2 linked regions of the Homo sapiens genome follow. The protein of the gene in region 2 purifies or fractionates together with the protein of the main gene of each other region. This does not show direct contact. Each region holds a gene or a part of one and is shown on either strand. Other genes may lie near its edges. The genes, in order: PRPF39 and TRNAU1AP.

Region 1 (11,468 bases), on a different chromosome or scaffold from region 2:
CTGCCGGGTTTCAGGCCGCGCTCTGGCCGCGGCCTCCCTCTCCCGCCCTGTTTGAGGCCTGGCTCGGATTCAGCGCTCAGCTGTCCATTCCTTTCTCCTTCCCACCTGTTGGGTGGAGCGGTGCAAGGTATTTTTTTCTTAGACCAAACGTTTCACTTGAGGGGTGCGTTAGGTAGGGTGGAGAAGTGTGGGCCTCCTTCGCCTGGATTTAGGAAGATATTTGGGGGTAATTCTAAAGCCCTTGCTTCTCCCGGAGCTGGAACACGGCTGGGGTGGCTGGAAGTGGAAGGAGCACATTTGCAGCCGCCAGAGGATTGGGAAGATAATATACGTTCTATTACTAAGGCATGTGAGCGCCTTGTAGGGCACGTTCTGTCTTCTGACTACATAAGCAACACTTTTGCGACCCTAAGTCACAGCACCCACAGCTTTTGGCAGGATACTTTAAAACAGAAAAAACACATCATTGATCCTGGCAGGATTTTTTAAGGGATTGTGCTTAAGAATGTTTAACTTTGGTAATCAGAGACCACCACTGGTGTTTTTCTCCAAAATCACATCTTTAAGTTAATTAATACTTGAAGTTAATAAATAATACTGCTCAGTGTATTAGTAATGATGCCATAATACCATGTGAATTTATGCTGATTCAAATGTTGTTTTTTTCGTTTGATACTCATATGGCCTTCTGTTTGAGGACTTCAGATTATTTAGCAACTGATTTAATCTGTTCAGAAATAAACTTTGCTACAGCTGGAAAGCGTGAGGCTTGAGAAAGCAAGTTTTGGACAGGGACGTATGAAGCTCATGTTGAAACTTAAGTGTTTTAGGCTGTATGGGAGCTTGAATGGAGTGAAAAGAACAAGCGTCTACTGTCAGGTTTTCCTCCTCCCTCTAGATTTATAACCTCATTCTAGAGTTGCAAAAGTTGGAACTTTCCACTGTTCACTCTCTAGTAGGGATAAAGTGATGGAAAGGAGTTCTGTTAAAGAGGACTAGTACTTAGATTGTGAACTTTGAAGTAGGGGTTGAGCATAGATGGCTCATAGGTGGTATGAGACACTATTTGTGTAAAGTCTCAGAATATTTTTCCTTGCTTATAATTGAATAAGAAAGAAGATGTTTAAAAGTCAAATGATAAAAATTGTATGTGCTGTTTTCTGTGGTATGTTTTAACAAATCTACATGGAAGATAGGACTTCAAAAAAAATTAAAAATAGCCGAAGGAGGAAGAAGGTAGTGTAGTTCCAGCCAAATGGTACGTTTTCCAAAAAGCCGAAGATTGATGTAGACGTTTATGTAAATACATATACAAAATCTAGTTTCTGGAACACAGTGTTTAATATGTAGAGACTTTAAAAAGTCGGCGTGTGACTACTTAGCCCTTAAAAACAGCTGCCAAAACCAGTGGTTATGATAGTCTCTTTTCTTCTTACATCCCAAATCTCCAGATTGCCTTGTGGATGAGATTTGCTTATTGCAAAGCTACTTGTTTTGCTCTACCCAAAACTCCTTTCAGTCTTTAGTGATGACTTCAGATTTTTATATATTGCTGTGTTTATGAAAAAGAATAGTCAATGGTATAATTTTTAAGTACCTCTACAGGAATAAGAGGCATACAGAAAAAAAAAAAAAGGTATTAGGTCAAAAGATGGCATTTCACTCTCGTTGCCCAGGCTGGAGTGCAATGGCGCTATTGGCTCACCGCAACCTCCGCCTCCCGGGTTCAAGTCATTCTTCTGCCTCAGCCTCCCCAGTAGCTGGGATTACAGATGCGCGCCACCACGCCTAATTTTTTGTATTTTTAGTAGAAACGGGGTTTCACCATGTTAGCCAGGCTGGTCTAGAACTCCTGACTTCAGGTGATCTGCCTGCCTCGGCCTCCCAAAGTGCTGAGATGACAGGCATGAGCCACCGTGCCCGGCCCAAATGTCCCATTTTTAATTAAGTGTTAGTAATTGAAGTCATCCTCCAAAAGACCTTTTAAATTTTAAGATGGCATAATTGTCACTGAAATACTTAATGTACGTCATAATTATACTAAAAGTGAAAGGTATGATAAATGTATTTTTTATATATTGCCTATTCACTTTATGTTATGTTTCATTTTATACTTGTGTCCTTTGTGCCTATCATATGATTTTATAATAAAGTGTAATGTAGTGAAAAGGAATCGACTGGTTTGGTGAGTTGAAAAAGGGAGGACTTTTATTAGTCTGGGGGAACAGCTTTTGTCAAGGCTCAGAAAGGAAAAATCTAAGGGACTCTGGAAATGGCAATGAGGAGGAGTATTGTAAGATTAATACTTTTGGAAAGTTAAGTTGAGACTGGATATATCATTCAGAGATATTTGTTGTGCTGTTACACGGCAAGTATTATTTCAGGTTCAAGGGGGACAGCGGTGAACAAAACTGATAAGGCCTCATTCTCACCCAATTTAATTTTTTTTTCCTTTTACTCTTGTTGAGCTGTGATCAGGAAATTTAATATTCGAGTAATATTAGTTTGCAGTAGTGCAGCAGTGTTTCTCAGTTTTTTTTTTTTTTTTTTTTTTTACTGCAGCCCACAATAAGATGTACATGGACATCACTAACTCAATAAACAGTTCAATTGTGTGTGCTTCAACAGTGTGCCCTTAATGTGTGCATTCACTGTGGTATATCTGTTTTTCTACATTTAAAAAATGAGAAACTGGTTTGAAGCAATCTGCATTTGAAAACATTGATCCAGAGGGGAGAAAATAAATACTTAAATTATAACACTAGTAGTGTGAATGGAAAGAAGGGGATAGTTAATTTTTTAAGGTGTATTATTTCGCTCTGTCGCCCAGGTTGAAGTGCACTGACATGGTCAGCCCACTGCAACCTCCACCTCCTGGGGCTTGGGTGATCCTCCTGCCTCAGCTTCCCAAGTTGCTGGGACTACAGGTGCGTGCCACCACACCCAGCTAATTTTTAAATTTTTTTGTAGAGACAGCATTTCCCTATGTTGCCCAGACTGGTCTCGAACTCCTGGACTCAAGCAGTCCTCTCACCTCGACTTCCAAAGTGCTGGGATTACAGGTTTGAGCCACTGCATGGGTGGCCCAGAGTGTATTATTTTTTTTGATGGACAGATCTTAATTGTATACATCGTGGGATAGGGGATCATTCATTTTTATACCGAGGTATGTTTGAATATTTTGTGAATGAGGCTTAGAGAGGTTAAGTAATTGGCTCAGAGTTCCCTAATGAGTAGCCAGAAGACTGTTTTTTTTTTGTTTTGTTTTGTTTTTTTTGAGATGGAGCCTTGCTCTGTCACCCAGGCTGGAGTGCAGTGGCGCTATCTCGGCTCACTGCAACCTCCGCCTCCTGGGTTCACACCATTCTCCTACCTCAGCCTCCTGAGAAGCTGGGACTACAGGCGCCCGTCACCATGCCCGGCTAATTTTTTTTTTTTTTTTTTTTGTATTTTTAGTAGAGACGGGATTTCACCGTGTTAGACAGGATGGTCTCTATCTCCTGACCTCATGATCCGCCCGCCTCAGCCTCCCAAAGTGCTGGGATTACAGGCGTGAGCCACTGCGCCCGGCCTCATAAGTGTTCTTCTGGCCTCTAAAACCCAAGTACTTATCACTTCCCATTTGGTTATGAAAGCAATATACTGGGTTTTAGTATGGGTTACTGAAGACTAATGTTACTTGTTTATTGTTCAATGAATTGAGTGTATACTAGGCCTCCAGGTGTACTGTATCCCTGTGTATTGGTAGATATGGTCCTTACTCTCAAGAATTGTGTAATCTGGTAGAGAAGATACACATTGAACAAGTATCACAAATGTGTTATGTGCTATGGAGAAAAAGAATGCTGTTGGGGCATGATTGAGGGCAACCTAATTTATTTGGGGGGTATGATAACACTTTTCAGGAAATGATGTTAAACTTTGCCCACTGTGATGATGGCATTTCTTAGGACAATTTTGGATTAATTATGAAAACAACTACTCTCTGAGCAATTGTTGAAAAAAAAATTAAAAAGCAAACTTTGCCCAGAAGATTAGGCTTTAGTTAGTTTGAAGGCACTGAGTCAGAGTGTGGTGTCAGGTAAAGGGATGAGGAAGCATTCAGGTAGAAGAAACTGCATGTACTAAGGTTCCTAAGCTGAAAGGAACAGAATTGGAAAAAACAGAAAGCAAAACTCAACAGAAATAGAATGTCTGGGCTGTACAAGTTAGTAGAGAAGAGGCAAGAGTTTTGGTGTTAGGATGAGGTTGAATCTTAGCTCTGTTTCTTACTATTCATGTACATTTAGACAAGTTATTTAACGTTAATGAATTTTGGTTTTGTCATCTTTAAAAGGGAAAGTAGCATTTAACAAAATATTTGCTCAATAAATAGCATATCTTATTATCATTAATAGCTAGTAATTGAAGTTATAGCAGTGCAGATGACATGCTTTCATTCATTCATTCTTCAGAAATAATGAGTGTCTTTGTGTGCCAGGCAACTCGATACACAGTAGTTGAATTACACATGTATATGTATTATTACATTAAAGTGTCATAAAACCATATACTTTTACTATGCAAAGCACTGTGCTAAAATTTTTTTCTATTCTATTTTCCATTTGAAGAAAGGTTCAAGAAACTGGTGTGAAGCAATCTACAGTTTGAAAATTACTGATACAGTGAAGAGATGATTACTTAGCCCCTTATTACAGATATGATATGCAAATATTTTCTCCCATTCTGTAGGTTGCCTTTTCACTCCACTGATTGTGTCCTTTTATGCACAAAAGCTTTTAAATTTGATGTAGTCCTATTTGTCTGTTTTTGCTTTTGTTTGCCTGTGCTTTTGGCATTATCCAAGAGTTCACTGCCAAGTCCAGTATCATTAAGCTTTCCCCTACGTTTTCTTCTAGGAATTTTATAGTTTTAGGTTTTACATTTAGGTCTTTACTTCATTTTAAGTTAATTTTTACATGTAGTATAAGACCAGGGTCCAACTTCATTCTTTTGCACGTGGATATCCAGTTTTCCAAGCACCATTTGAAGAGACGATCCCTTCCTCAATGAGCAGTCTTAGCACTTTGTTGAGGGCCATTTGAGAAGGGAGTTTATTTCTGTGTTCTTTATTTCATTGGCCTATTTGACTGTTTTTATGTCAGTATCACACTTGATTTCTTTCTTTTTTTTGAGGCAGGGTCTGGCTCTGTCACCCAGGCTGGAGTGCAGTGGCACGATCACGACTCACTGCAGCCTTGACTCCCACTTCAGCCTCCGGCTAATTTTTGTATTTTTTTGTAGAGAATGGTTTTTGCTATGTTGCCTGGGCTGGTCTGGAACTCATGGGTGATCGGCCTACTTGGCCTCCCAAAGTGCTGAGATTACAGACAGGAGCCACTATGCCTGGCCCGTTTTATTTCTTTCTTTTGATAGCTATTCTGTACCCTTTCCCATTTTATGTTGCTAGTTGAAAATTATTGGTTGTTGTTAAGAATAAACTGATAATAATTGACATATAAATAATATGTTGGAGTAACTCATTAAAAAATAACTTTAGTGTATTCTTTTGACTCTGTGATTTGTGAAGTAATCATCAAAATGATCTCTATAAGCATAAGGTTGATGTTCTTAAATCTTTTTACAACACTGTGATTGCAGGGTGTGGAGTAATTGACAGGCTCTGAAGATGCAGGGGTGTGGTAAATTTGCTGATTCCAGAAGAAACCCTTATGTCTCACCTAAGTGTGAAATTAGAATAGGGTAGCTAGTTAATGACTCAGAATGTATCAGCCTACAGTCTTTTTTGTATTTTGTTTTTAGACTGAGCTCTGAAATACAAAACCACAAACTAGTGACTAATTTGCATTTGGAAAATTAATCTTCAAACGTATCTTTTTCTTTAAAGGAAGAGGGAAAAAGAACAAAATAAATTTACAAGTTACTTTGCCTTTTCCTAGGGCCTGAAGTGATTAAACTTGGAAAAGTTGATGACATTAATCATACATTGAACTAGAAGGGAACTTATTTTTTCTGGTAGTCTACTACTTTGGACTCTCTTTTATTATGCATTGGCTAGATTTGCTTTTTCTGTAATTTTTTCTCAAATTCTTTTGTCCATAATATGGCTCCATGCTACTTTGCTTTTACCCTTCTACTTCTCAATACCAACCTCTTCATTCTGGTCATTCTGTGTCTCTCTTATCTTTTCAGTCATCATTTCTACCTTCTTGTCTGCTGTCAAGGAGAGTTGTTTAATGGGTTGTTCCACATTCTAGAATAGTTTACCATTCTTTTTCTATTATTCCATAATTTTTCAAAGTTAATTATATTTCATGTTTTCATCTATAGATTGCTATTGTTTTCAAATGATTTTTTCAATAATCTTTCACTTTGTTTCATTTGAGAGCTTATCTCCAAATGTGTGTGTGTATGTGTTTGTGTGTGTGTGTATGTGTTGTGTGTTAGCTCTTTCTCTACCTGGTTAATAGACATTAGTGAGTAAGGACCTTATCTTACACTTATATGTCACTACGAGGAATGTAATACAGTGCTGGACATCCATCAGGCATTGAAAATTTTTTGTCCCCTTCCCCCATCCCCACATGTCCCATTTTTTCCTTTCAAATTTTTGTGTATTCCCTAGATTTACCTGGTTATAGCTAATTCTTTCAATGGCATTCAGACTCAGAAGGTCTTTTAACATTTAAAATTTATTCTTTCTTAGGAAAAAAATAGTTTCATACTATTTGTTCTTTCTTTTTCTTTTTCCTTGTTTTTAATAGAATCTTGCTCTGTCTCCCAGGCTTAGGAAAAAAATGGTTTCATACTATTTGTTCTTTCTTTTTCTTTTTTCCTTGTTTTTAATAGAATCTTGCTCTGTCTCCCAGGCTGGAGTGCAGTAGTGTGATCGTAGTTCACTGCAGCCTTGAACTACTGGATGATCAAGTGATTCTCCCACCCCAGCCTCCTCAGTAGCTAGGACTATAGGCACACACCACTGTGCCCAGCTAATTTTTAGATTTTTTTGTAGTGATGGAATCTCACTTTGTTCCCCAGGCTGGTCTGGAACATCTGGCTTCAAGCGATCCACCCACCTTGGCTTCCCGAAGTGTTGGGATATAGGTGTGAGCCACCTTTCCTGGCCATGCTACATTTTGAAATGATGGAAATGTTTTAGAATCTGGGTTTTGTATCCGTGTGACAATTTTAAAGGGTCACACATAGACACATGACCCCGAATGCAAAACTAATATGACAAACTTATAATAATATTTTACAATTTTGCAGAGATCTGGCTTTCTTAGTTTACGAAGAGTGTATACAAACCAATAAGAAAAAAATTAGTAATGAACAGAAAATATGGGCAAAAGATGTGAAAAGGCATTTATGAAAAAAAGAAATAAAAATTTTACTTACTCATAGTTAAGGAAATGAAAATCAAAATGAGGTGCTACTTTGTTAAAAAAAAATTAGATGAGCAAATGATAGCTATTGTTGCCGGGGATATAAAGCAATGGACAGTCTCATGCACTGTTGATGACTTAATTGGTTAGGAATTCATTTTGTCTCAAAGTAATAGAAAACTTGTATATTGATAGTAGTTTAAACAAATAGGAATTTATTTCCTTACACAATAGGAAGGTGGCATTTTGTTAGAGCTTGATGATGTCAAGGTTGGTATTTCTTAATTTTCTTGGCCAATCCCTTATAGACTACTTCATGGACATGAATCGTTTCAGATATGGTCAAATCCAAGGTAAGAATAAATTGGTAGAAGGAAGGACCACACTAGTTGTGATTGTCCCTTTTTATCAAAAAAGCAGAAGCTTTCTCAGAGCTCTGCAGCTGATGTTCTTTTCAGTTTTGTGGTCACTTACATGAGATTAACTATATTGCTGCTTTGAATGAAATCAGTATTTTATTAGTAAGGAAATTACTAATAGTGAGAAGGGATATTGGGTAGGCAACTAACAGTGTCTGCCAGATGACTAGTGCAACTTTTCCAGAGAGAAATTGTCAGCATCGGCTGTGCACGGTGGCTCACGCCTATAATCCCAGCGCTTTGGGAGGCCGAGGCAGGCGGATCATGAGGTCAGGAGATCAAGACCATTCTGGCCAACATGGTGAAACCTCGTCTCTCCTAAAAATACAAAAATTAGCTGGGCATGGTGGTGCGTGCCTGTAGTCCCAGCTACTCAGGAGGCTGAGGCAGGAGAATCGCTTGAACCCGGAAGGCGAGGGCTGCAGTGAGCCGAGATTGCGCCACTGCACTCCCGCCTGGGTGACAGATCGAGACTCTGTCTCAAAAAAAAAAAAAAAAAAAAAAAAGTCGTCAGCATCTTTCCAAATTTAGTATTATTCTTCAATCCAAAAGTTATACTCTCCAGAGTTTACCCACAAACAAGTTTCTGTTTTTCTGAATTATTTAGAGAACTTGGTAGAAGTATAACTTTCTTGGCCCTTCCCTAGACCTCAGAATCATTGTAGTCGGTAAGGAATCTATATTAGTTTTAAACAGCTTACTAGTTGACTTGTTTGGAGCCAGATTTGCAAATTTCTGCATAGACGGTAGTGAAACTCAGATTTTTATAGTATGGTAGTCATAAAATTGTTAAAAAAAAAATGTATCCAGTCAACTTATAGCTGGCTTTTTAAAAAAATAACAAAAAACTTCTCCCCCCATTCAGTTAAGTAATTGCAGATAGGCAAAAAGAATAAAGCACACATCTCTCTTTTGTATGGAGAACAATTGTTAACACCAGCTGCCAGTTTTGTATTTTATTTTATTTGGTGTAAATCCTTACAAATCTGTGAGTGCATGTGTGTATGCATATATATGTATTTAAAAAATCTATAATGGATATTTTTCTGTATCAATACAGATGTACATATTTCCTTTTTAATTCTTATTATTCCATTATATATGATTTATTTTTTTTTTTTTGAGACGGAATCTCACTGTATTGCCCAGGCTGGAGTGCAGTGGCACGATCTTGGCTCACTGCAACCTTCACCTCCCGGGTTCAAGTGATACTCCTGCCTCAGCCTCCCGAGTAGCTGGAACTACAGACGTGTGCCACCACACCCTGCTAATTTTTTGTATTTTTAGTAGAGATGGGGTTTCACCATGTTGGACAGGCTGGTCTTGAACTCCTGACCTCAGGTGGTCTACCCTCCTCGGCCTCCCAAAGTGCTGGGATTACGGGCATGAGCCACCGTGCCTGGCCGAGTATACTATTTATTAAAGCAGTCTTTTTCTTTTCTTTTTTTTTTTTTGAGACGGAGTTTCACTCTTGTTGCCCAGGCTGGAGTGCAATGGCATGATCTCGGCTCACTGTACCCTCCTCCTCCCAGGTTCAAGAGAGTCTCCTGCCTCAGCCTCCTGAGTAGCTGGGATTACAGGCATGTGCCACCACGCCCGGCTAATTTGGTATTTTTAGTAGAGACAGGGTTTCTCCTTGTTGGTGAGGCTGGTCTCGAACTCCCAACCTCAGGTGATCCGCCTGCCTCAGCCTCCCAAAGTGCTGGGATTACAGGCATGAGCCACCACGCCCGGCCAAAGCAGTCTTTTTCTTAATACACCCTCCAGTTTTGCTGTACAACAGTGCTGGTAATGAATGCCCTTAAACAAATACATGTTTTTTCTGATTATTTCCATAGTATAAAATATGTACAGTTGCTATTTGGTACACTCATTATTTTGATTTATGTCTTTATTAGTAAAGATATAGGTCTTTTTTATGTTTATTGGTCATTTGCATTTCTTCCTTTGCATTATTGTCTTTAAAGTTTTAGTCATCTTTTTAATTAACTACTATTAATATATTAAGTAGTAGTATATTCTAAGTATATTTTAAGAGTAAATCAGTTTTATGGTCTGCTTAATTTTGAGAATAATTCCTCATTTTAAAAAAAATGAGACATGCCCTATAATTTAATGATTTGGTTTCCATTTAAGCTGTTAGTGGAAGAGATGAAGGTAATTATGAAAATATAATGTGGTATTACCTTAAAGGGGTAATTGCTTATTACCTTATAGCCTTAAAAATTAGATGACATAATTTTAAGTATATTATGTAGTTATTATCCAGACTGTAAGCCTTTCTCAAATATGTTTTTTAGAGGTAGGGTCGTGCTCTGTTGCCCAGGCTGGAGTATCGTAGCAGGGTCAATGCTTACAGCAGCCTTGAACTTCTGGGCTCAGGTGATCCTCCTGCCACAGCATCTCCTGAGTAGCTGGGACTGCAGCTGTGTGCCACCATGCCTGGCCCCTTAAATGTGTTTTAAGTAACATTTATTCACTTTAAAAATTACTGTTTAATTTTTTAAAGCCATAATTTATATCTTATATAATAAAGTTGAAACCTAGCTGTCAGGATTTATAAATCGTAAGTATATAGATATATTTAAGCAATATGATTTTATCTTTTCTAAAACTTTATCCTGAGCCAAGTGATGAGCTTCCTTTTGAAATGTTTATACCCATGACCAGAATTTTTGTCAGTTTTACTTTTAGCCTCCAGAACAGTTGTTAAAGATATGCCGTTTTCCAGTGATTGATAGCAAGGTAACATTCAGGCACCGAATCAGATTCTTACCTAAATAAGAAACATTGAATTTTAAATAGTATTTCTTCATTGGGTAGCAGGCAGTGTACTTATTTGTTGTTTGAATGAGGTAACAAATCCACAGTTATTTGGTTTTCATTCAAATACCAACAACAAAATGGCAGTTTTGTGAAGAATTTATAATTTTATTTACAATATAAAAACTAATGAACCTTCTGATTCTGACTTGTAGGGGATTAAGACTCACATTAATATTTCTTTAATAGCTAAATTAGGGCTTTTTAAAAGGTGTTGTTGAGGCCAAATAATTTTATTGGCATTTGGAAGATATTTCTCTTTTTTTCGTGTTTCCACAGATCGTTAACTGAAGACAATATGCAAAATTCTCACATGGATGAATACAGAAATTCTAGTAATGGCAGCACAGGCAACAGTTCAGAGGTAGTGGTAGAACATCCTACTGATTTCAGTACTGAGATTATGAACGTTACAGAAATGGAACAGTCACCTGATGACTCTCCCAATGTGAATGCATCTACAGAAGAAACTGAAATGGCAAGTGCTGTGGACCTTCCAGTGACGCTGACAGAAACAGAAGCAAATTTCCCTCCAGAATATGAAAAATTTTGGAAAACTGTAGAAAATAATCCTCAGGATTTTACAGGCTGGGTATATTTGCTTCAATATGTAGAACAGGAGGTTAGTAACTATTAAAATGGTATCAGAAGGGACAAATTAATCAAGTCATTAATTTATAATGAAACAGTAGACCTTATTGTTTATGATTAAAATTGACTCATAATTTTCAAATGAAGTTGAATAACATTAGGTAGCTACATTTTTAGCTTTGAAAATAGCTTACAGCTTTTGTATGTTGTAGAGAGTCAGTAGTGTCAAAGCTTAATGTTTTGTAATAAT
Region 2 (11,570 bases):
CAGCCACGTAGTAAATGCTATACAATTCTTTGCTATTATGATTATTTTACATTTTATATTCCCTGTAGTTAATAATTGCCTTGTTTTTAATGTACTTTGTTTTGTTTGTATAAGTATCATTAATTCAGTTCCAATATATCAGAAGTATAAATCTTTTGGGTGTTCAAACACATCACCTACTTTCAATTTTATCTTTTCCTCCGTCCTCTCCCAACCTGAATTAATTACCCCGAAATAAATGTAAAGTAATACAACATATGGCTGTGCTATAAATAATACTTACAGTCATAATAATGTGGATGTTCAACAGTGCTTTAACAAAATATCATCAGGAAGGCTGGGCACGGTGGCTCACGCCTGTAATCCCAGCATTTTGGGAAGCCGAGGTGGGAGGATTCCATGAAGGCAGTAGTTTGAGACCAGCCTGGGCAACATAGTGAGACATCCCCCTGCACCCAATCTCTACCAAAAAAAAAATTATGGGTGTGGTGGTGCACACCTGTAGACCCAGCTATTGAGGGCAGGGAGGCTGAGGTGGGAGGACTGCTTGAGCCCAGGATATCCAAGCTGCAGGGGCTGTGATTATAACACTGTACTCCAGCCTGGGTGACAGAGCAAGACCCTGTTTTTTAAAAAGTTGGGGTACGGTGGCTCACGCCAGTAATCCCAGCACTTTAGGAGACCGAGGCGGGTGGATCACCTAAGGTCAGGAGTTCAAGGCCAGCCTGACCAACATGGTGAAACCCCATCTCTACTAAAAATACAAAAATTAGCTGGGTGTGGTGACGGGTGCCTGTAGTTCCAGCTACTCCAGAGGCTGAGACAGGAGAATCGCTTGAACCTGGGAGGCAGAGGTTGCAGTGAGCGGAGACCCTGCCATTGCACTCCAACCTGGGCGACACGGCGAGACTCTGTCTCAAAAACAAAAAAGAGGCCGAGCACGATGGCTCATGCCTGTAATTCCAGCACTTTGGGAGGCCGAAGTGGGCAGATCACCTGAGGTTGGGAGTTTCAGACCAGCCTGACCAACTTGGAGAAACCCCATCTCTACTAAAAATACAAAATTAGCTGGGCATGGTGGCGCATGCCTGTAATCCTAGCTACTCAGGAGGCTGAGGCAGGAGAATCGCTTGAACCCGGGAGGAGGAGATTGCAGTGAGCCAAGATCACGCCATTGCACTTCAGCCTGGGCAACAAGAGCTAAATTCCATCTCAAAAAAAAAAAAAAAAAAAAAGCCAGGCGCAGTGGTTCACGCCTGTAATCTCAGTACTTTGGGAGGCTGAGGTGGGCAGATCACGAGGTCAAGAGATCGAGACCATCCTGGCTAACATGGTGAAACCCCGTCTCTACTAAAAAAATACAAAAAATTAGCCGGGCGTGGTGGCGGGTGCCTGTAGTCCCAGCTACTTGGGAGGCTGAGGCAGGAGAATGGCGTGAACCTGGGAGACAGAGCTTGCAGTAAGCCGAGATCGCGCCACTGCACACTCCAGCCTGGGTGACAGAGCAAGACTCTATCTCGAAAAAAAAAAAAAAAGAAAAGAAAACATAGGAGATGGAGAGATAAGTGTCTATGTATATGGGGAGGGGGCAGCCACTAAATACCTGAAACTGCAAGTAAAAAAGTAGTGTAGTAGAAAGTATATATTTTAAAATACACAGGTAGGTTCTAGGAAAAAGACTTGGAAATAGTCGACTCAAGGGAGTGGGAATTCGGGGGCAGAGGGTAAGAGACCACTGTCTCTTTCCATTTTTTTAAGACAGAGTGTCTCTCTGTCCCCCAGGCTGGAGTGCAGTGGCATGATCTTGGTTCACTGCAGCCTCCGCCTCCTGGGCTCAAGCAATTCTCATGTCTCAGCCTCCTGAGTAGCTGGGATTACAGGCACGTGCCACCATGCCCAGCTAATTTTTGTATTTTTAGTAGAGATGGGGTTTCACCATGTTGGCCAGGCTGGTCTCAAACTCCTGACCTCAGGTGATCTGCCTGCCTCCACCTCCCAAAGTGCTGGGATTACAGGTGTGAGCCCCTGCACCTGGCCAAAAATAAATTTTTTTAATAAAGAGCACAGCACAGTGACTGGCAAATAATACTAAATTAATAGCTGTCAGTTATAATTTTAAGGCTTCCAACTGCCATGTTGGAGGATTTACTGAATGCTAGGCATTGGGCCAAGTACTTTCCCAACTTATTTTTTTCCTCACAACCACCCTGTGGGGTAAGTAAGCACTATCCACATTAGGCCCAGAAGTTAAATAAATAATTAGCAAGAGGTGGGGCCGGGATTATGCTCCATTTGTTTGAATCTACAGCCAAAATGCCTAACCACTACACTACTATTGCAGTGATGGTAGGATACGGCCAGAAATATGGCAACTCGTGGTTGAACCTCAGGTTTTCAGACTGATGAGTCTCTGGCTTGAGAGCACAACATCCTAAGTTGAGGATGTATAGACTGGTAGGAAAGGACTTTGGGTGCCCATTAGTCCAGAGGGAGCCCCAGAAAGTGGCCTTAAAACACTTGGAGTGGGTTTCACTGTCAGAGATGCCAATTACTACATACAGAAGAAGCTTTCCATACTGACGACTGGGCACCAAAGTAAGTCAGAGGCCTGGGATACTCCCAGAGTAGGAGCATCTCAAAATTAAACTGTCTGGATTGTCTAGCCATCTAAATTGTGTTTATGACGGCACACTGTGGGCAGGTCACTGTTCTGGGACTAGTCAGAACTCCAGGTGATTTGGAGTAGGGTAGTGGGACTCAAGAAAATAGAGGCCGGGAGCTGTGGCTCACACCTGTAATCCTAGCACTTTGGGAGGCCCAAACAGGTGGTTCACCTGAGGTCAAGAGTTCAAGACCAGCCTGGCCAACATGGTGAAACCCCATCTCTACTAAAAATACAAAAATTAGCTGGGCGTGGTGGCGCCAGCCTGTAATCCTAGCTACTTGGGAGGCTGAGGCAGGAGGATCGCTTGAACCCAGGAGGCAAAGGTTGCAGTGACCAGGATAGCACCACTGCACACCAGCCTGGGCAACAGGAGCAAAACTTCATCTCAAAAATAAATAAATAAATAAATAAAAATAGAGTGACAGAACTTGGGGACTGATTGGTTGCCAGATGACAAGGTTACTCCAATTTACACTCCTTTTAATTCTTCCCACCTCCCACCCCAGGGCCCTATATGGGAATGAAGGAAGAATCCCATTCCGGCTCCAACAAGACTCATGTTTTTCAGACTGGTAAACCTGGAGTGAGGGAATGGCTTGCACAGAGCAGTGGCTTGCCCTGGGTCACAGTGAGACAGTAAGAACAGGGCTTGGCTTCAGCTCACCAAGACTAGAGCAGCAGTTCCCAACCTTTTTTGGCACCAGGGACTGGTTTTGTGGAAGACAATTTCCACGGACAGGGGATGGTTTGGGGATTACTCAAGCGCATTACATTTATTGTGCACTTTATTATTATTAATGTAACGTTGTAATATATAATGAAATGATTATATAACTCACCATAATGTAGAATCAGTGGGAGCCCTGAGCTTGTTTTCCTGCAACTAGACAGTCCCCTCTGGGGTTGTTGGGAGACAGTGACAGATCATCAGGTATTAGATTCTCATAAGGATGCCAGGCATGGTGGCTGACGCCTGTAATCTCAACACTTGGAAAGGCTGAGGCAGATGGATCACCTGAGGACAGGAGTTTGAGACCAGCCTGGCCAACATGGCAAAACCCCGTCTCTATTAAAAATACAAAAAAATTGGTGGGCGTGGTGGCTCACGCCTGTAATGCCAGCACTTTGGGAGGCTGAGGTGGGTGGATCACGAGGTCAGGAGATTGAGATCATCCTGGCTAATACGGTGAAACCCCGTCTCTACTAAAAATACAAAAAAACTAGCCAGGCATGGTAGTGGGCGCCTGTAGTCCCAGCTACTTGGGAGGCTGAGGCAGGAGACTGGCATGAACCTGGGAGGCGGAGCTTGCAGTGAGCTGAGATCACACCACTGCACTCCAGCCAGGGCGAGAGCGAGACTCTGTCTCAAAAGAAAAAACAAAAACCCACACCACCATACCCACTAACTCTGAGGCTTTAGTCATATAAAGAAAAATAGCCATTATATATTGTTCTTTTGTGCTCTTATAATGTGTAACCATGCCCTTTAATTAAAGAATTCCAGGATCTACAAAAAAAAAAGAAAGCAGAAAAAAGAAGCCAGGCGTGGTGGCTCACGCCTGTAATCCCAGCACTTTGGGAGGCCACAGTGGGGGGATCATGAGGTCAGGAGTTCTAGACCAGCCTGGCCAACATAGTGAAACCCTGCCTCTTCTAAAAATAAAAAAAAAAAAAAAAAAAAAAAAAAACTAGCCAGGCATGGTGGCAGGTGGCTGTAATCCGTCTCAAACAAAAAAAAAAAAAAAAAAAAAAAAAGAAAGAAAAGAAAAAAGAGGCTGGGCGCTGTGGCTCACACCTATAATCCCAGCACTTTGGGAGGCCAAGGCAGGAGGATCGCTTGAGCCTAGGAGTCCAAAATGAGCTTGGCCAACATAGTGAGCTCTCCTCTCTGCAAAAAAAAAAAAATTAGCCAGCTGTGGGGGTGCACACCTGTAGTGCCAGCTACTCTGGAGGCTGAGGCAGGAGGATCACTTGAGTCCGGGAGTTTGAGGCTGCAATAAGCCAAGATTGTGCCAATGCGCTCCAGCCTGGGCGACAGAGAGAGACCCTCTCTCAGAATGACTGACCAACTGAATAAATAAATAAATAAATAAAATAAAAATAATTCTAGGATCTGGCCTTAGGAGATCCAAATTATCCAACCAAGGTTGTGGAATGTCTCATCTCAGGAAGAAATGCTGAAAACTTCATTTACAGCCTTGTTGCTGACAGCCAAACTACCAGGTAGCCCAGTACTAAAGATAATCATTGGCTGGGCGCGATGGGTGGCTCACGCCTGTAATCCCAGCACTTTGGGAGGCCGAGGTGGGTGGATCACCTCAGGTCAGGAGTTCGAGACCAGCCTGACCAACATGGTGAAACCCCGTCTCTACTGAAAATACAAAAATTAGCTGTGCCTGGTGGTGGGCGCCTGTAATCCCAGCTACTCAGGAGGTGAAGCAGGAGAATAGCTAGAACCCAGGAGGCTAGATTCTAGCTATTCTGAGCCGAGATTGTGCCATTGCACTCCAGCCTGGGCGACAAAGGAAGACTCCGTCTCAAAAAAAAAAAAAAAGATAATCATTACAACAGGATATGCTGACCTTCATACCCCACCCTCATGAGCTTTGTCCTGCCCAGCCTGTAAACCCTACACTTGATATCACTTTCCGTGCTTTGCCCAATAAAACATCTCAACCAGCTCTTTTCGGAGAGTCAGGGAATTCTCGCTCTCTTGTGCTGCCTCCCTTATACCCAGGCATAAGCTCCAATGAAGACTTGTCTGGGAAAACTTTTTTGGCCTCATGTTAATTTCTGTTGGATTGAGAGCCTAAGAACCCCTGGTAACAATAGGGAGGTAGTGGAACCGGGTTGTCCGGAGGGATATTTTCACTTTTTTGGATGCACTTGTATCTGCAGTTTTTTACAACGAGCATATATTAATGTTGTAATTATGTGTGTGTTTGTGTGTGTGTGTACGTGTGTATGTTTTTTGTTTTTTGTTTTTTTTTTAATTTGAGACAGAGTCTCACTCTGTCGCCCAGGCTGGAGTGCAGTGGCGCGATCTCGGCTCACTGCAGCCTCTGCCTCCCGGGTTCAAGTGATTATCCTGTCTCAGCCACCTGAGTAGCTGGGACTACAAGTGCACACCATCATACCCGGCTAATTTCTGTATTTTTAGTAGAGACGGGGTTTCACCATGTTGGCCAGGATGGTCTCGATCTCCTGACCTCGTGATCTGCCCACCTCGGCCTCCCAAAGTGTTGGGATTACAGGCGTGAGCCACCGCGCCCGGCCTTGTTTGTTTTCTAAATATGTAAAGTCAGAAATTAACCCAAGTAACGAGCATACATATATATGTGTGTGTGTGTGTGTATATATGTATATATATGTGTATGTGTGTATATATGTGTATATGTGTATTATGTGTGTATATGTGTATATATGTGTATATATATGTGTATGTGTGTGTGTGTGTGTATGTATATATATGGAGTCTTGCTCTGTCACCAGGCTGCGGTGCAATGGCGCTATCTCGGCTCACTGCAACTTCTGCCCCCTGGGTTTAAGCGATTCTCCTGCCTCAGTCTCCCGAGTAGCTGCGACTACCAGCGCTCGCCACCACGCCCGCTAATTTTCGTACTTTTAGTAGAGAGGGGGTTTCCCCCTGTTGGCGAGGATGGTCTCGATTTCTTCACCTCGTGATCCGCCCGCCTCGGCCTCCTCAAGTGCTGGGATTACAGGCGTGAGCCACCGTGCCCAGCCCTAACGAGCATATATTAATGTTGTAATTATATGTGTCTGTGTGTGTGTGGTTTTGTTTTCTATATAAAGTCAGACGAGTGTGTGTGTGTAGTTTTGTTTGTTTTCTAAATATATAAAGTCAGAAATAAACCCAAGTAACCCAGCCGCCTGGGCCAGGTGGTATCTGGCCCGCCCCATTCCAGCCTGAACTCCGCCCACCGCGATCCGGAAGCCTAGCGCCCAGTGGGTTGCAGGAAAAACCCGGAGCTGAACACACTGCCCGACCCGGGCCGCTGCGCTCGGGAGCCTGCGCAGAAGCCGTCGGAGGCGCATGCTCTGTAGCGGTCTCCGCAGCCAGGATTGGCGCCCGCGCGGGCCTTCGAGCCCCGCCCGCAGAGCCCCGCCCGCAAAGCCCCACCCCGGTGCGCGGGTATGGCGGCCAGCCTGTGGATGGGCGACGTGAGTGAGGGCAGCCGTCCGGGGTCTGAAGACAAGGAAGCATCTCGGTTTCGCGAGAGAGGAAGGATCTGAGTGGGAGGGGACTTGGGATCCCAGAAAGGGGAGACGTGTGACGGGGGTTCTTTTTGGTGACACAGAAGCGGGTTCCAGCATCTAAGTGAAGAGGCTGAGTCCGTGAGGCTAGGGGTCCTGGGGCCCCACCTGGGTTCGTGGGAGGGAAAGGTGGTGCTTTGGGGACATAGAATGGGAGCAATCCAAGGACTGAGGCGCGCTGTTCTGGGACCGGAGGAGTGGGGTTTCTAGGTCCAAGGGGAGGCTCCCTAAAGCGGGGCAAGCTTGAACCAAAAGAGCTGGGGTTTCAGGCCGCTCAGTGGAGGCGAACCTCGCCCCTCGCTCCCCCAGCGGCGCGTAGCCAGCCCTGGGCTGAACGGGAGGGGCTCTGGAACCCGGAGTGGGAAGCCCGGCCGCCGGCCTGAGCCGCTGTGCTCTTGTTTTTACGCAGCTGGAACCCTACATGGATGAGAACTTCATCTCCAGAGCCTTTGCCACCATGGGGGAGACCGTAATGAGCGTCAAAATTATCCGAAACCGCCTCACTGGGTAAGTCTCATCTCAGGTCTCTCTTAATACATCTCGTTGCAGCTGTCATGTACGAGAATGTAAACATCGTAGTCATGGCTTCTCACTACCCCTAGTAATAGTCACTGTAAAATTATAACAGCTAACATTTTGAGGTCCCAATGAGTGGAAGGATGGCATGTAGCTTAAGGGTAGGACTTGCCAGGCGTTGTGACTCACACCTGTAATCCCAGCACTTTGGGAGGCTGAGGTGGGTGGATCACCTGAGGTCAGGAGTTTGAGACCAGCCTGGCCAACATGGTGAAACCCCGTCTCTACTAAAAATACAAAAATTAGCCGGGTGTGGTGGCAGGCACCTGTAACCCCAGCTACTCCGGAGGCTGAGGCATGAGAATCACTTGAACCCGGGAGGCGAAGGTTGCAGTGAGCTGAGATCGTGCCACTGTACTTCAGCTTGGACAACAAGAGCAAAACAATGTCTCAAAAAAAAAAAAAACAAAAAAACAAAAAACGCAGGACTCAAGCGAGACTGGGTTTGAAAGCTATTTCTACTCTATGACCTTGGGTAAGTTACTTAACTGCTCTGTCTCATTCACTTTGAGTATAAAAATGGAAATAACAGCACCTACCTCCTAGAGTTATGGTGAGGATTAAATGAGTTAATTCACATTCATCATTAGGACAGTGTATGGCATATAGCATATGCTCAGTAAGTATAGTCAGATTACGATCTGCTGAGTAATAAGCAGTTTACATCCATTATCTCCTTAAAACCTCAGAAACTTCTGAGGTAGGTAAATACTATTATGAAGAGGCTTAATAACTTGAAGAGTTACAATAAATAGCCGGGCGCAGTGGCTCTCGCCTGTAATCCTAGCACTTTGGGAGGCCGAGGCAGGCCGGATCACGAGGTCAGGAGATTGAGACCATCCTGGCTAACACGGTGAAACCCCATCTCTACTAAAAATACAAAAAAAATTAGCTGGGCATGGTGGCGGGCACTTGTAGTCTCAGCTACTTGGGGGGCTGAGGCAGGAGAATGGCGTGAACCCAGGAGGCGGAGCTTGCAGTGAGCCGAGATCGCTCCACTCCACTCCAGCCTGGGCGACAGCTGAGACTCTGTCTCAAAAAAAAAAAAAAAGAGTTATAATAAATAACAAGTCAGGACTTGAATTCGAGTCTATCCTGAAAGCTCATGAGGGCCCTTAACTCTTATGCCATTCATTTAAAAAATTGTGGAGGATGGGTGCGGTGCCTCATGCCTGTAATCCCAGCACTTCGGGAGGCGAGAAGGGTGGATCACCTGAGGTCAGGAGTTGGAGACCAGCCTGACCAACATGGAGAAACCCTGTCTCTACCAAAAATTAGCCAGGCGTGGTGGTGCATGCCTGTAATCCCAGCTACCTGGGAGGCTGAGGCAGGAGAATCGCTTGAACTTGGGAGGCAGAGGTTGTAGTGAGCCGAGATCGCGCCATTGCACTCCAGCCTGGGCAATAAGAGCGAAACTCCATCTCAAAAAAAAAAAAAAAATTATCTGTGGAGATACTACTGTGTTCTACTGTTATACATTCCTGGCTGAAATAATCCAGATATAGCCCCTGCTCATGGAGTTTACTACATTCTAGTGGGGAATGAGACAATAAATAAGTAAACATAACCAAATGCGTATTTTCAGATAGAGGTTCTCTATTGCCTCCATGTTCTTCTTTCTCTTTGAGGTCTTAGTTTTCCTTAGGGAATTATCAATTTGTCAGTGTTTATCAAGCAGCTACTCTTTTCCTTTTTTTTTTTTTTTTGAGACGGAGTCTCGCTCTGTCACTACCCAGGTTGGAGTGCAGTGGCGCGATCTTGGCTCACTGAAAGCTCCGCCTCCTGGGTTCACGCCATTCTCCAAGCAGCCACTCTTTTCTCGGTACTCTACTACATGTGGCTTGCTAAAACATCAAATGGTTTAAAAATAGAGATGAGACATTTGAAAGATACTTTGTGTATTCAGAACCCCATTACCTAGGAAAAGGTTTTTCTGACTGGTAGATCGTGCCCACCTAAATATTTCTCTTCTTGCTCTTCTAAGCAGAAAACCCCAGATAATCAGCTACTGGTATGAAAATTCATTCTGTAACCTTTCTCATTTTTTTTTCTTTTTTTTTTTTTTGAGACGGAGTCTTGCTCTGTGGCCCAGGCTGGTGTGCAGTGGCACGATCTCGGCTCACTGCAAGCTCCACCTCCTGGGTTCAAGCCATTCTCCTGCCTCAGCCTCCCAAGTAGCTGGGACTACAGGCGCCCGCCACCACGCCAGGCTAATTTTTTGTATTTTTAGTAGAGATGGGGTTTCACCATGTTAGCCAGATGGTCTCAATCTCATGACCTCGTGATCCGCCTGCCTTGGCCTCCCAAAGTGCTGGGATTACAGGTGTGAGCCACCGCGCCCGGCCCCTTTCTACTTTTTAAAACACTGGCATAGGCTGGGCACGGTAGCTCACACTTGTAATCCCAGCACTTTGGGAGGCTGAGGTGGGCAGATCACTTGAGGTCAGGAATTTGAGAACAGCCTGGACAACATGGTGAAACCTTGTCTCTACTAAAAAAATACAAAAATTAGCCAGGTGTGGTGAGACACACCTGTAATTCCAACTACTTGAGAGGCTGAGGAAGGAGAATCGTTTGAACCCAGGAGGTAGAGGTTGCAGTGAGCCGAGATTGTGCCACTGTGCTCCAGCCTGGGTGACAGAGGGAAACTTTGTTGCAAAAATAAATAAGTAAAACACTGGCATAGATTCTCACATTTTAATCTTTTTTTTTTTTTTTTTTCTGAGGCATAGTCTCCCTCTGTTGCCCAGGCTGAAGTGCAATGGCACCATCTTGGCTCACTGCAACCTCCGCCTCCTGGGTTTAAGCCCTTCTCCTCTCTCAGACTCCTGAGTAGCTGGGATTACAAGCACCTGCCACCACGCCCAGCTCATTTTTTTTGTTTGTTTGTTTTTTGAGACGGAGTCTCGCTCTGTCACCCAGGCAGGAGTGCAGTGGTGCGATCTCAGCTCACTGCAACCTCTGCCTCCCAGGTTCAAGCGATTCTCCTGCCTCAGCTTCCTGAGTAGGTGGGACTACAGCCGTGTGCCACCACATCCAGCTAATTTTCTGTATTTTTAGTAGAGATGGGATTTCACTGTGTTAGCCAGGATGGTCTCAATCTTCTGACCTCTGCCTGCCTCAGCCTCCCAAAGTGCTGGGATTACAGGCGTGAGCCACTGCGCCCGGCCTAATTTTTTCTATTTTTAGTATAGATGGGATTTCACTGTGTTGGCCAGGCTAGCCTCGAACTCCTGACCTCAGGTGATCTGTCCGCCTCAGCCTCCCAAAGTGCTGGATTACAGGCATGAGCCACTGGGACCAACCTTACTGTTTATTGAAATAAGATATGGGCCAGGCACAGTGGCTCACACCTGTAATCCCAGCACTTTGGGAGGCCGAGGCAGGCGGATCACGAGGTCAGGAGATCGAGACCATCCTGGCTAACACAGTGAAACCCCGTCTCTACTAAAAATACAAGAAAATTAGCCAGGCATGGTGGCGGGCGCCTGTAGTCCCAGCTACTCGGGAGGCTGAGGCAGGAGAATGGCGTGAACCCGGGAGGTGGAGCTTGCAGCGAGCGGAGATCACACCACTGCACTCCAGCCTGGGCGACAAAGTGAGACTCTGTCTCAAAAAAAAGAAAAGAAATAAGATATGGAACTCTTGTTTCTTACATGTTTCTTTTTTTTTTTTTTTTTTTTACTTTGAGGCAGAGTTTCGCTCTTGTCACCCAGACTATATTACATATTATTTTTCCTTGGGTCTTATCTTTTCTCCTTTTCTATAATCTTGGTGTTTTGTTTTGTTTTGTTTTCTTTTGAGACAGAGTCTTGCTCTGTCACCAAGCAGGAGTGCAGTGGCGCAATCTTAGCTCACTGCAATCTGCACCTCTCGGGTTCAAGCCATTCTCCTGCCTCAGCCTCCCGAGTAGCTAGGACTACTGGCACATACCACCATGCCCAGCTAATTTTTGTATTCTTATTACAGACAGGTTTTCACCATGTTGGCCAGGATAGTCTCGATCTCTTGACCTCGTGATCCACCCACCTTGGCCTCCCAAAGTTCTGGGATT

Evidence for each region.
Region 1: the proteins of TRNAU1AP (region 2) and PRPF39 purify together in Homo sapiens (affinity purification with mass spectrometry; 3 studies listed by BioGRID and IntAct, with this or other methods). This does not show direct contact.

The regions. Positions count from the first base shown.
Region 1 is NC_000014.9:45,084,315-45,095,782, forward strand, and holds part of PRPF39 (pre-mRNA-processing factor 39), read left to right. Parts: intron 1-3,928; exon of another isoform or gene 3,929-3,994; intron 3,995-10,906; 5' UTR 10,907-10,925; coding exon 10,926-11,249; intron 11,250-11,468. UniProt on the Homo sapiens protein: Involved in pre-mRNA splicing.
Region 2 is NC_000001.11:28,546,291-28,557,860, forward strand, and holds the start of TRNAU1AP (tRNA selenocysteine 1-associated protein 1), read left to right. Parts: upstream 1-6,794; 5' UTR 6,795-6,820; coding exon 6,821-6,847; intron 6,848-7,349; coding exon 7,350-7,447; intron 7,448-11,570. UniProt on the Homo sapiens protein: Involved in the early steps of selenocysteine biosynthesis and tRNA(Sec) charging to the later steps resulting in the cotranslational incorporation of selenocysteine into selenoproteins. Stabilizes the SECISBP2, EEFSEC and tRNA(Sec) complex.